Regions from separate parts of the Homo sapiens genome. Here region 1 is linked to region 2. Evidence: fine-mapped expression QTL. A gene starts in region 2. The other region holds a variant in brackets. All regions are shown on one strand. Distances are from middle to middle.

Evidence for each region. PIP is the estimated chance that this variant, and not a neighbour inherited with it, causes the effect. A credible set is the group of variants that fine-mapping cannot tell apart.
Region 1: its variant is the best candidate, but not a certain one, in a credible set for the expression of YAF2 in esophagus mucosa (GTEx, PIP 0.52).

Annotation. Positions count from the first base shown.
Region 1 is chr12:42,205,601-42,210,985 of GRCh38, reverse strand. All of the region lies in intron 2 of YAF2 (YY1 associated factor 2), which reads left to right. Among named protein-coding and RNA genes, the nearest start is that of YAF2, 30 kb to the left of the region's middle. The variant C/T (reference allele first, on the strand shown) is at 3,266.
Region 2 is chr12:42,235,796-42,241,180 of GRCh38, reverse strand. It overlaps YAF2 (YY1 associated factor 2), which reads left to right and starts at 2,933. Exons shown (of 4, transcript NM_005748.6): 1 at 2,933-3,026; 2 at 3,457-3,582. The coding sequence starts at 3,001. It overlaps LOC124902920 (a long non-coding RNA gene), which reads right to left and starts at 2,736. Exons shown (of 2, transcript XR_007063279.1): 1 at 2,454-2,736; 2 at 1,903-2,044. RefSeq lists silencers at 2,188-2,327, 2,518-2,757, 2,808-3,187, 3,288-3,357, 3,478-3,807 and an enhancer at 3,141-3,642.

The DNA.
Region 1 (5,385 bases), 30 kb after region 2:
TCTTGTACTAATATAAAATATAATGATATTGTTTCAGCAAAATGAAATAGCCTGGTGGCTGATATTTTTGTATATTAAAATATAGCAGCCATTATAGTAGACTTTTTAAAATGAAACCATTCTAATGATTTCCTTATGTTTCTGATAATGTGAGAAGTTTCCACTGACATTATATTTAGCAAATTGTTTCCATATTTACTTTGATACGTGTATATATAGTTATCTAGTGAATTTATGCTTTCTTCTGTAGTTCTACGTGTGATAATAATCTCAAATAAAATGAAATAATCTTCTTATTCTGATAGAGAAGAAAAAGCTGGATCACTTACCAGTAACTGGAGTTCTCCTATTGGGTAATCTCCACAGATCCACATTGTTTGAAGTTATTGTGAGTGCCTCGAGGACCAAGGAACCGTTGAAATTTCCAATTTCAGGAAGGTAAGCAAGTGCACTGAAGCATGTCTCTAGCATCTCCCAAATCCCCTCCCCCAAACTTTCTTACATATACGTCTGTACTGCATGCCCCCTCAGTTCCAGTGGATGCCCATCAGGAAGATTCTCATGCTGAACAGAAGGGCAAGAGAGGTGGATCTGTGAGGGAAAAGACCCAATAGGATAACTCAAGTTACTGGTAAGTAATCTAGTTTTCACAAACCTGAGATTTTTTTTCCCCCCAAATTTTGTCCCTTGAGAAGGAGTTTGTTTAATTGAAAAGAAAGGAAGTTACTTGGGATAGCTTCTTTTTGTACATTTGATATGGATTATGGAAATTATTGTGTGGACAGTAAATACTGAGCTATTAATGGGTGTATGAGTAAAAAGTATGACATTAATTTTAAAGTATCTTATTTACGTAATAGCTGCTTCTAAAAAATTATACATTTAGTTGGCCGGGCTTGCTGACTCACACTTGTAATCCCAGTACTTTTGGAGGCCAAGGCGGGTGGATCACCTGAGGTCGGGAGTTCGAGAACAGCCTGACCAACATGGAGAAACCCTGTCTCTACGAAAAATAGAAAATTAGCCGGGCATGGTGGTGCATGCTTGTAATCCCAGCTATTCGGGAGGCTGAGGCAGGAGAATCGCTTGAACCCAGGAGGCAGAGGTTGCGGTGAGCTGAGATTGTGCCATTGCACTCCAACCTGGGCAACAAGAGCGAAACTCTGTCTCAAAAAACAAAAAATTATGCATTTACTGGCTTTGGTAAATGGTTTAGTTGTTCTAAAGCAATATAGGGAAGCCAAATGTTGAATTCTTGTGTACATTTCTTTATGATGTTGCTTTTTTGAAGTAAATACTTATATTGTAAAATTTATGCAGATGTCATATTTGGTGAATTTCTTTTGGCACAGTAGTACTGACCAGCAAGGATAGTTTTATATTAATTGTCTAGCACTTTTTTTTTTTTTTTTTTTTTTTTTTGAGACAAAGTCTGGCTCTATCGCCCAGGCTAGAGTGCAGTGGTGTGATCTTGGCCTACTGCAACTTCTGCCTCCTGGGCACAAGCCATCCTCCCACTTCAGCCTCCTGAGTAGCTGGGACTACAGTTGCACACCACCATGCTTGACTAATTTTTTTATTTTTTATAGAGATGGGGTTTTGCCATGTTGCCCAGGCTGATCTCGAACTCATGAACTCAAATGATCTGCCCACCTTGGCCTCCCTAAGTGTTGGGATTACAGGTGTGAGCCACTGCTCCTGGCCTGACTAGCACTTTTTTTTTTTTTTCCTAGCACTTCTTAATGACAGTTTTCAATGTATCTTGAACTTCATTGAAAGTATATTTGAAAAATAATATAGGATATGTTGCAAGTCTATTTACCGCTTCCTTGTTTGTAATGAAAATACTTGATGTGAATTGTGACAGAATTGGTTCAGTTTGAGCTGCCTGATTTCCTCAGGTACCAAATAACTTATTGAATTGATATTTGTAAATGTTACTATATAGTTTCTTGCTTCTCATTTCTCTCCCACTCATTTTGTATTATTACTAGGTTCTATTTCTAAAAAGGCATTTTAAATATAAAGAGCTCGTAGTGGTGTCCTGCTTATAGCTGTTTTACAAAACTTTCATCCGTTTGCTGGATACTTGAGGCCTCCTGCTATCCAATTCCATTCTGTTTATCTAGCCTTAATTTCTTCAGTTTGAAACTTTTGTTTGTTCTTACCTGCATAGTTATATTTACACTTGGTTTGTGGTTTCTCACTTTCTTCAGATAGCCTTTTCTGCATTCTGATTTCTGTACTTTAGAGTTGAGGCAAGTCTTACCCCTTTTATCAGTCCTTTTATGCTAGTATATTTGTTATCTTCAGTTCTTCAGTAGAAAAGTGGGATGTCTGTAAGACTATTAATTCATGGAATTTATTTAATACAGTACCTTAGCAGCACCCAGTTAATACCCTTATTGGCTAGTGTTTGGCTATAGATTGATCTTAACCATTTTTGTGGTTATAGTTAGCTGAATGATACAGTTTAGCCCTTAAATATTAGCTTTAGGTTGTATTGCTATTTTTAAATTTTAATTTAATTTAATTTAATTTTTATTTTTTAAAATAAAGTGAGACAGAGTCTCACTCGATCGCCCAGGCTAGAGTGCAGTGGCATGATATCCGTTCACTGCAACCTCCGCCTCCCAGGTTCAAGCAATTCCCTTGCCTCAGCCTCCCAAGTAGCTGGGATTACAAGCATCTGCCACCAGGCCTGGCTAGCTTTTTTGTATATTTAGTAGAGACAGGATTTCACCATGTTAGCCAGGTTTTGAACTTCTGACCTCAAGTGATCTGCCCGCCTCGGCCTCCCAAAGTGTTAGGATTACAGGCATGAGCCATGGCGCCTGGCCATATTGCTATTTTTTAAAAATATACAGCTCTTTTTAAAAAATTTATTATTTTATTTTTTACACAGGTATGTTGTGTAATAAAAATATGCAACTCTTAAACTGGGTTTTTAGGTTCTTTGAGAGCAAGCATAGGATTTTATGGTTTATATTACCTAGTTCCTAACATCAGTGACTGAGATTAAATCATCCCCACTGAAATATTAGCTTTTCATATAGATTTATGAATAAACTTACCAGTTTTTTGTTTGTCTTTTTGAGACAGAGTCTCGCTCTGTCGCCCAGGCTGGAGTGCAGTGGCACGATCTCGGCTCACTGCAAGCTCTGCCTCCTGGGTTCACGCCATTCTCCTGCCTCAGCCTCCCAAGTAGCTGGGACTACAGGCGCCCGCCACGACGCCCGGCTAATTTTTGTATTTTTAGTAGAGA[C/T]GGGGTTTCACCGTGTTAGCCAGGATGGTCTTGATCGCCTGACCTTGTGATCTGCCCGCCTCGGCCTCCCAAAGTGCTGGGATTACAGGCATGAGCCACCGTGCCCAGCCTACACTTACCAGTTTTTTAATGTATAAAGCAGTTTCATTTGGCTCATCAATCTTATTTGTACCATATTTTTTTCTTAAAAACAATTTTTCCCTTTAAAAGCTGGTATAGTGAAATTCTAATTATTTAGTATAATATTATTAATAATTTATCTTGTGGCATATAAAAAGAGTATATAGTTTTGAGAGTATAGAGTAGCTTCACTTAAAGATTTAGTGTTAGAAAACAAAGTGGAAATACAGTATCCTTGATTTTTGCAGTTTGAATATCTTAGAAGATTATTGCTTTCTTTTCAGAAATGAAGGAAGGAAATGCTCTTTGACAGATTGTCTCTTCTAAATAATCATCAGAAAGCAGTTTGTCCAATCATTAGACAAGCCAAGATAAAGAGCATTTAGTCAGATGACTTAAATACTAGTTTTGAATCTACTGCTGCATGTCTTTGTACGATTCTGTTCAATCTCATAGTTTCTTTGGTGTGAATGATATGGTCGTTATATTGAGAGTGCTTTTATTCTTTGGAGAAATATATTGAAATATTCCAAGTGAAGTATCATGTTGGGCTCAGGAGTGGGTTCAGAAAAAAAAGTGTGTGGATATTTGGGTGTGGTGTGTGCAAGTATATGGAGAGAGAGAGAAAAAAGGTAAAGCAAACGTTGTAAATGTTAACAATTTTGAATCTGGGTAGAAGGTATATGGGTCATTGTACTTTCAACTTTTCTATGGCTTTGAAATTTTAAAAAAAGATGAGGAGAAAGTGTTTTAAAGAGAACTTTATTGTGCTTCAATTTCTCCAATTCTAAAATGGGAATAATAGAACTTTTCATGCCTTGAAGCAGGTAGGCACAGTGGGATAACATTTGGCAGAATAGCAGCCAAGAGAATTCCTAAAAAGTGATTTTTTTTTTGTCATTAAAGAAGTGATTTATAATGGAGAACTTTTCAAAGAACAGTTTGTCTAAGGTGATTTAGCTTAAAATTTCAGTTACTTTTTTTTTTTTTTTAATATGGAGTCTTACTCTGTCTCCCAGGCTGGAGTGCAGTGGCGCTATCTCGGCTCACTTCAACCTCCACCCCCTGGGTTCAAGCGATTCTCCAGCCTCAGCCTCACGAGTAGCTAGGTCTACAGGTGTGCACCACCGCGTCCACTTAATTTTTGTATTTTTAGTAGAAATGGGGTTTTGCCATGTTGGCCAAGCTGGTCTCGAACTCCTGACCTCAGGTGATCTGCCCGCCTCAGCCTCCCAAGGTGCTGGGATTACAGGCGTGAGCCACTGCGCCCAGCCAGACGTCACTTTTTTTTTTTTTTTTTTTTAACTAAGAGCATATTGCATTATAATTGAACAAGAACAGTTACTTCAGAAACAATAAATATTTATGTAAAATAACCAATTAAAATCTTGAAAAATATAGCTTGTAATAAAATAACTCAATAAATGGGTAAAATAGAAGATATGACACAGCTAAAGAGAGAAGTTACTGATTTGAAGAAAGAAATGAGTACTCCTCCGGACAAGCACAGAGAAATGCAGAAAAATGAAGAGGTGAAAAATATGGAAGAAAAGATGACACTTAGAGGATAGATTGAGCAGTTCCAATATAGGTCTAATTGGAGTTTTAGAAGAGAGCATACACAGAGGAGTGGAGAAGCAATATTAAAGGAAAAATGATTAAGAATTTTCAAGAATTAAAAAAATGGAAATTACAAAATAATTAGAACTAAATCACAACAAAAGTGTTGTATCAAAATTTGAGGGATGCACAAAAATGGTACTTGGGGATAAATTTATAATCTTTAATGAATGTATTAGATTGAAAGATTGAAAATAAATGAGCCAGCTCTTCAATTTAAAAAACTAAAAAAAGAGTAGAGCCAAAGGAAGAAGAGGAAATAATAAAAATGAAAACAGAATTTGGTGAACTAGAAAATAATCAGCAATGACCGGGCACGGTGGCTCACGTCTGTAATCCCAGCACTTTGGGAGGCCGAGGCGGGTGGATCATGAGGTCAG
Region 2 (5,385 bases):
TTTGTAAATCCCAATATGAAAGAAAAAAATCTCATTCAACAATTGTAACACAAGTGAATGTATTGATTATTTAGTTTAGAAACAGGGTCTTGGCTTTGTTGCTCAGGCTGGTCTGGAACTCCGGGGCCCAAGTTATCTTCCTGCCTCAGCCTCCCAAGTAGCTGGGAATACAGGCGCGCGCTAACCTGACTATAAGTGGATGTATTTATTCTCAGAATATTTATTGAGTGCCCACTATGTGTCACACTGTTCTAGGGGCTGGAGATGCAGCAATAAAGGCAACAAAAGTTATTGTGCTTTTTGTTCATGATTCAGAGGTGCGGCTTACTTTTTAGTGAGGGAGGTTACAATCTAGTGAAATGGTGATTTGCAGCATGGGGGATTTTTAGAGTGCTTGATTTAGTTTCCTTTTTATTTAAAAATACATTGTTGCCATCACTTTTGCAAGTAGAGCAGTTCTTGTCAGTCTATTTGAGGATCCATCCAGTTGAGGCATTTAAAAACATCACAATGCCTTAGACTTGCAAGGGACCTTAGTTGTGATAATAGTTTTAACTCCTTTATTTTACATATGAAAAAAACTTAGCTGAGTTTACCCACTGCATTACTGAGAGGTTAAAGACTAGGCCTTAAATCTGGTTCTCTTGTATACGTGCCTCAATCATACTCCTCATGGTTCCTGGTTTCCGAATTTGGGTCTGAATCATGAGAAGCTACATTTGCAAAAAGTACAGATGGTACAACGAGTTTAGAGACTGCTATGTAAATGGAGTGATTTGGTTAATCAGAAAGAAGATGCGGTGAAAGACCAATAGGATACCTGAGCTCTAACCCTGGCCTGCTCATCAAAGAAAAACCATTTAACCTGGGCCCTAATTGCCTTGTCTTTAAAAAGAAGGGCTAGACTACGGATTTACAATGGCTCGACTTACGATTTTTCTACTTTACGATGGATTTATCGGTGTACCAAATGCATTTTCAATTTACAATATTTTCTATTTAAGGTGGATTTATCGGGAAGTATCCCCTTTCTAAATCGAAGAGCATCTGCAGTCGATGAGGCCATGTGCATAGTACTTTGAGTCCTTTAAAATATGCATCTATGCGCAGGGATTTACAAAGTGCCTGGCACATAGTGCTCAAAAAAATGTTATTTATTTATTTACTTAGAGGCGGAGTCTCGCTCTGTCGCCCAAGCTCGAGTGCAGTGGCACGATCTCGGCTCACAGCAACCTCTCACTCTCGGATTCCAGCGATTCTCCTACCTCAGCCTCCCGAGTAGCTGAGATTACAGGCGCCCGCCACCACAGCTGGCTAATTTTTGTATTTTTTAATAGAGATGGGGTTTCGCCACGTTGGCCAGGCTGGTCTTGTGAACTCCTGACCTCAGGTGATCCGCCCGCCTCGGCCTCCCAAAGTGCTGGGATTACATGCGTGAGCGACCGCAACCGGCCAAAAAATGTTATTATTAATCGCACAACAATCTCATATAGATGCAATTCAGAATATGAAAACGTTGAGAATTACAGAAATTAAGCAATACTTCCAAGGTCTATCAGCTAAGAAACAGGAGAAGCAGGCTGAGAATCCTGGGCTTCTGACTGTATTATTTCCTATGTAGTTTAGCTATAAAATTATTTTACATGAATTCGGACTTGATGTAAACCTAGAAAGATGGACAGAAACAGCACAGTTAAAGAGGGATATACTTTATGCAGAAGTAACCCATGTGCATGAAGGAAGGGTTCTGGTAAGGGAATGAATTTCATCTGCACTCTTTGTCAGGAGGCAGCTTTCCTTATGGGAGAGGGAGGCAGAGGTAGGGAAAATGTGTGAAGCCTTTGAATGCCAGGCTAAGGAGTGTGGGCAAGTCGTTAGTGGTTCTTTATCAGAGTGGTGGCATAGTATTAACAGCATTTTATTATTAATCTGGTTGTGGATTACTGAATACATTGGGGAGGTAGAAGTGGAGCTTCGGAGACCAGTTAGATGGCTGTTGCTGGAGTCTGGAGTATGAGGACCTTTAGTATGTTGACGTAGAGACCTGGGAAGGTGTTCTTTTGTTAGCAGACAGCGTTGAGGGGACATGCAAACTCCTTATATTTAAAAAGGACTTATGAGTATATAGGGGTTTCTTTCAAAAGCAGCTACTGCAGAGGCCTGAGAGGCCAAAAGGGCGCGTTTGGAATTAAAACAGAGTTAGACTCTTGGCTTTGTCATTTTCTAATTATATAGCCTAGAGGAAGTCACCTAATCTCTCTTGAGTCTTGATTTCAATTCCTCTAAGTTAGGGTTGACAATCCCTACTTGTTAGAGCATCTGTGTGCATAAACCAGACAGTGCTTTAAGGCATGTAGCAATGGCGCTGCGTGTTGGTTCCCGCCTTCCCCCCGGTATACTGCAGGCGGGGGCTGGGTAGCTAAGGACAGCGGAGGCCAGGAAAGTCGTTCTACCTGGAGATCCCGGGCTGGCACTTCTGTCCAGACCTGGACAGGCCTCCGAACGCCGGCCGGCCCTACCTTGGACCAGGCTTCGCACGGGATGACGGAGCATCCCCTGCCAGTCGGTGGGACAGACGTTTTCCTCCTCAGAGGGGCTCTGGAGCGCGAGGCAGTCCCCGGCAGCCGGGGGTACCAAGGGGGCAACGGGGGAACAGCGCGGAGAGGCGGCGCCGGCGCCCGAGGCAGCCGCGGCCACCGCGGCCACCCCCGCACCGCCCGCCGGCTAACTCGCCGCGGGTGCTGGGCCGCGCTGGCCGCGTTTGAAGTCTCCGGCGCGGCTGCTGGTTGGCCGGCGAGGGTCACGTGCGCCCAGGCAGGAGTTTCCCCGACAGCTGGAGGCTGCGTGGGATCCGGCGGCGGCTCCCGAGCGCGGCGGTGCGGCCTTCCCCGCCCCCTCCCTCCCTCCTCCCCCGCCCGCTTCCGCCCGGCTTATTATCCTCCTTATTGACAAACAGAGCGGTCGCGGCGGCGACTCTCGGCGTGCGGTGATAGCCAAGCCATGGGAGACAAGAAGAGCCCCACCAGGTAACAGCGCCCGGGCCCCGGGGCCCGGACTGTGCGGGCGGCAGGGCCCTCGTGCAGGGCTTCGGGTGGCCGCCTCGCTAGCCGCCCGGGCACCGGGGCGAGCACGGGGGCAGCGCCGCTGGTGTGCGAGTGCTGCCGCTTGAGGGGGCCGGCGCCGGCCGCCCCACAATGGAGCCGCGATGGCGGCGGCGACCGGAGCGGCCGCCCGGGTGTCAGAGCGGCTGTGGCGGCGGCGACTGCGGCCGCGCTCGCGCCCTGCCTCTTCCTGACTCCCTTCCCCCTCAGCCGGAGCGCGGCGCGCCGAGGGCCCGCGGGGCGGGGGTCGCAGAATTGGGGCGGGGGGCGGGGCGGGGGCGGCCGCGGGGCCCGGGCACCGGGCGCGGCCTGCTGGTGACCCCGCGCCGCGTCGTGTCCGGGTTGTGTCCTGCAGGCCGAAGCGGCAGCCGAAGCCGTCCTCGGATGAGGGTTACTGGGACTGTAGCGTCTGCACCTTCCGGAACAGCGCCGAGGCCTTCAAGTGCATGATGTGCGATGTGCGGAAGGGCACCTCCACCCGGTGAGTCCCGGGCCTGCCCCTCGCGCCGCCGGCCGGCGGGGTGGCGACCAGAGGACGCCCTTGCGGCTGCCGCCCCCTCCCATGACACTGGCGGACCCGGCGGGAGGAGGCAGACGGAGGTGGCTGTGGCGATAGGAACTGGGTCACATTGATCGCAACCCAGGCGATGGTTTGCGGTGAGGGGTAATTGAAGAGGCTGTAACGTTTTTTGCTGCCAAGAGAGAATAAATTATTTAAGGGAGGCATTAGCTACTGCGATTTAATTCGTATCGCTGGGTGTAATGCCCCTCTCCCCATTCTGGGTATAAAAATGTTGGCTGCATTGTTGTGTTAGTGTGTGGGGATCAAGGAAAACCCATAAAATCTCTTTAGGAGCAAAGGATGTAATTTAATTTCGTTCCTAAAGAAAGAAAAGTATCTGATTGCAGAATACACAATATATTAAAACTTATTTTTCTACATGTACTTCTGGAAGGGTCAGATCAAGGTTTTATTTAGTGTTTTTATTCCAGTACTCTAATATTTTATAAATAAGTAGTTGGAGATGAGCCCAGTCACAGGAACAGATTTTTACTGAAAGTACCTTTATATCTTTAGTTTGATTAAATGGCAGTCTCTTAGACAAATGAGATGAAAAGATCTCTGCCTATTTTCAGACTTTATTTATTGTAAGCTTGCAGTATAATAACTCTGTCTTTTAAAAAATGACTTTGAATTAAGTGAATAAAGAAAATCATCCAGGAAATTCAGTCAGTGGCATTCTTAATCTGTCAGCACTTAGTTATCGAGCTCCTTGATTCTTATACGAAGGTACCCTTTGAATTAAATATAATCCTGTGATTTATTACTTAATATTTAGAGAAGATATGTATTTTGATATTACAAAGTCCATTAGAAACTAAACTATAACAATAAGCATACTAATCTTACTGTTGCTTTAAAAAAGAAGGCACATGTAATATTGACATATACAAATATTCAGTAGACGTTAGATTTCTAAAAAATGAGATCTTGATTTTTTAAAAAACACTTTACAGAATTTTATTAAGTTTAAAATTTAGAGACAGGAATGGTTGACAGTAACTTATCTGAAAAATTTCTCAGTGAAGCTCGCTGGTTTTGACATGCTTGTTTTTTGTAAATCATCATATGCTTTTTGTATATTCCCACAATTGATAAAATATTTCGTACATTTTTCATATTCAAAAAGCAAACTTTCAAACGTATGCTAAATTTAAGGGATTACAACAGAACATTCCAAAAAGAAAAAAAGTATTTGCTAAAATGATTGTGGTTACTATTTTTGGACCCGTGATTTGTGATTTAAGTATTTTGAAAAGCAGAGTATCTTCTTGGCTGTGTAAGGTTGGAGTTGGTTTAGAGTATATTTGTGTATCTGTGTTAGTACTTTGTGCTTTTTAAAATGCTCAATAAGCAATTTTTAGAAAATTCGTTTTTTGGAGGCAGGAACATTAAAGTGGAAACAATTATAATCTTGATCTCTGGTACTATATATTATTGCTTTTTGTTGTTCCCTCTCTATTTTCTTGTAGCCATTAGAAAAATACTGAAACTAGAAGAGCCTATATGTTTATTTGCAGGGACAGCAAGGAAGGGGGGAAGCTGGTGTCCTACTCCACAGCCAGTCTTGGGGTTAGAGGAACCCTGAGAAATAGAGTAGGTGGTGGCAGCTCAGAAGAGAAGAAACAGGCTGAATACCTGGCACCTGGAAGAAGAAGGAATATAGTACACAGGGGAGTTGGCCCAGGACAGAGAAGTGGGCCTAGTTTAAAAGAGGCTTGA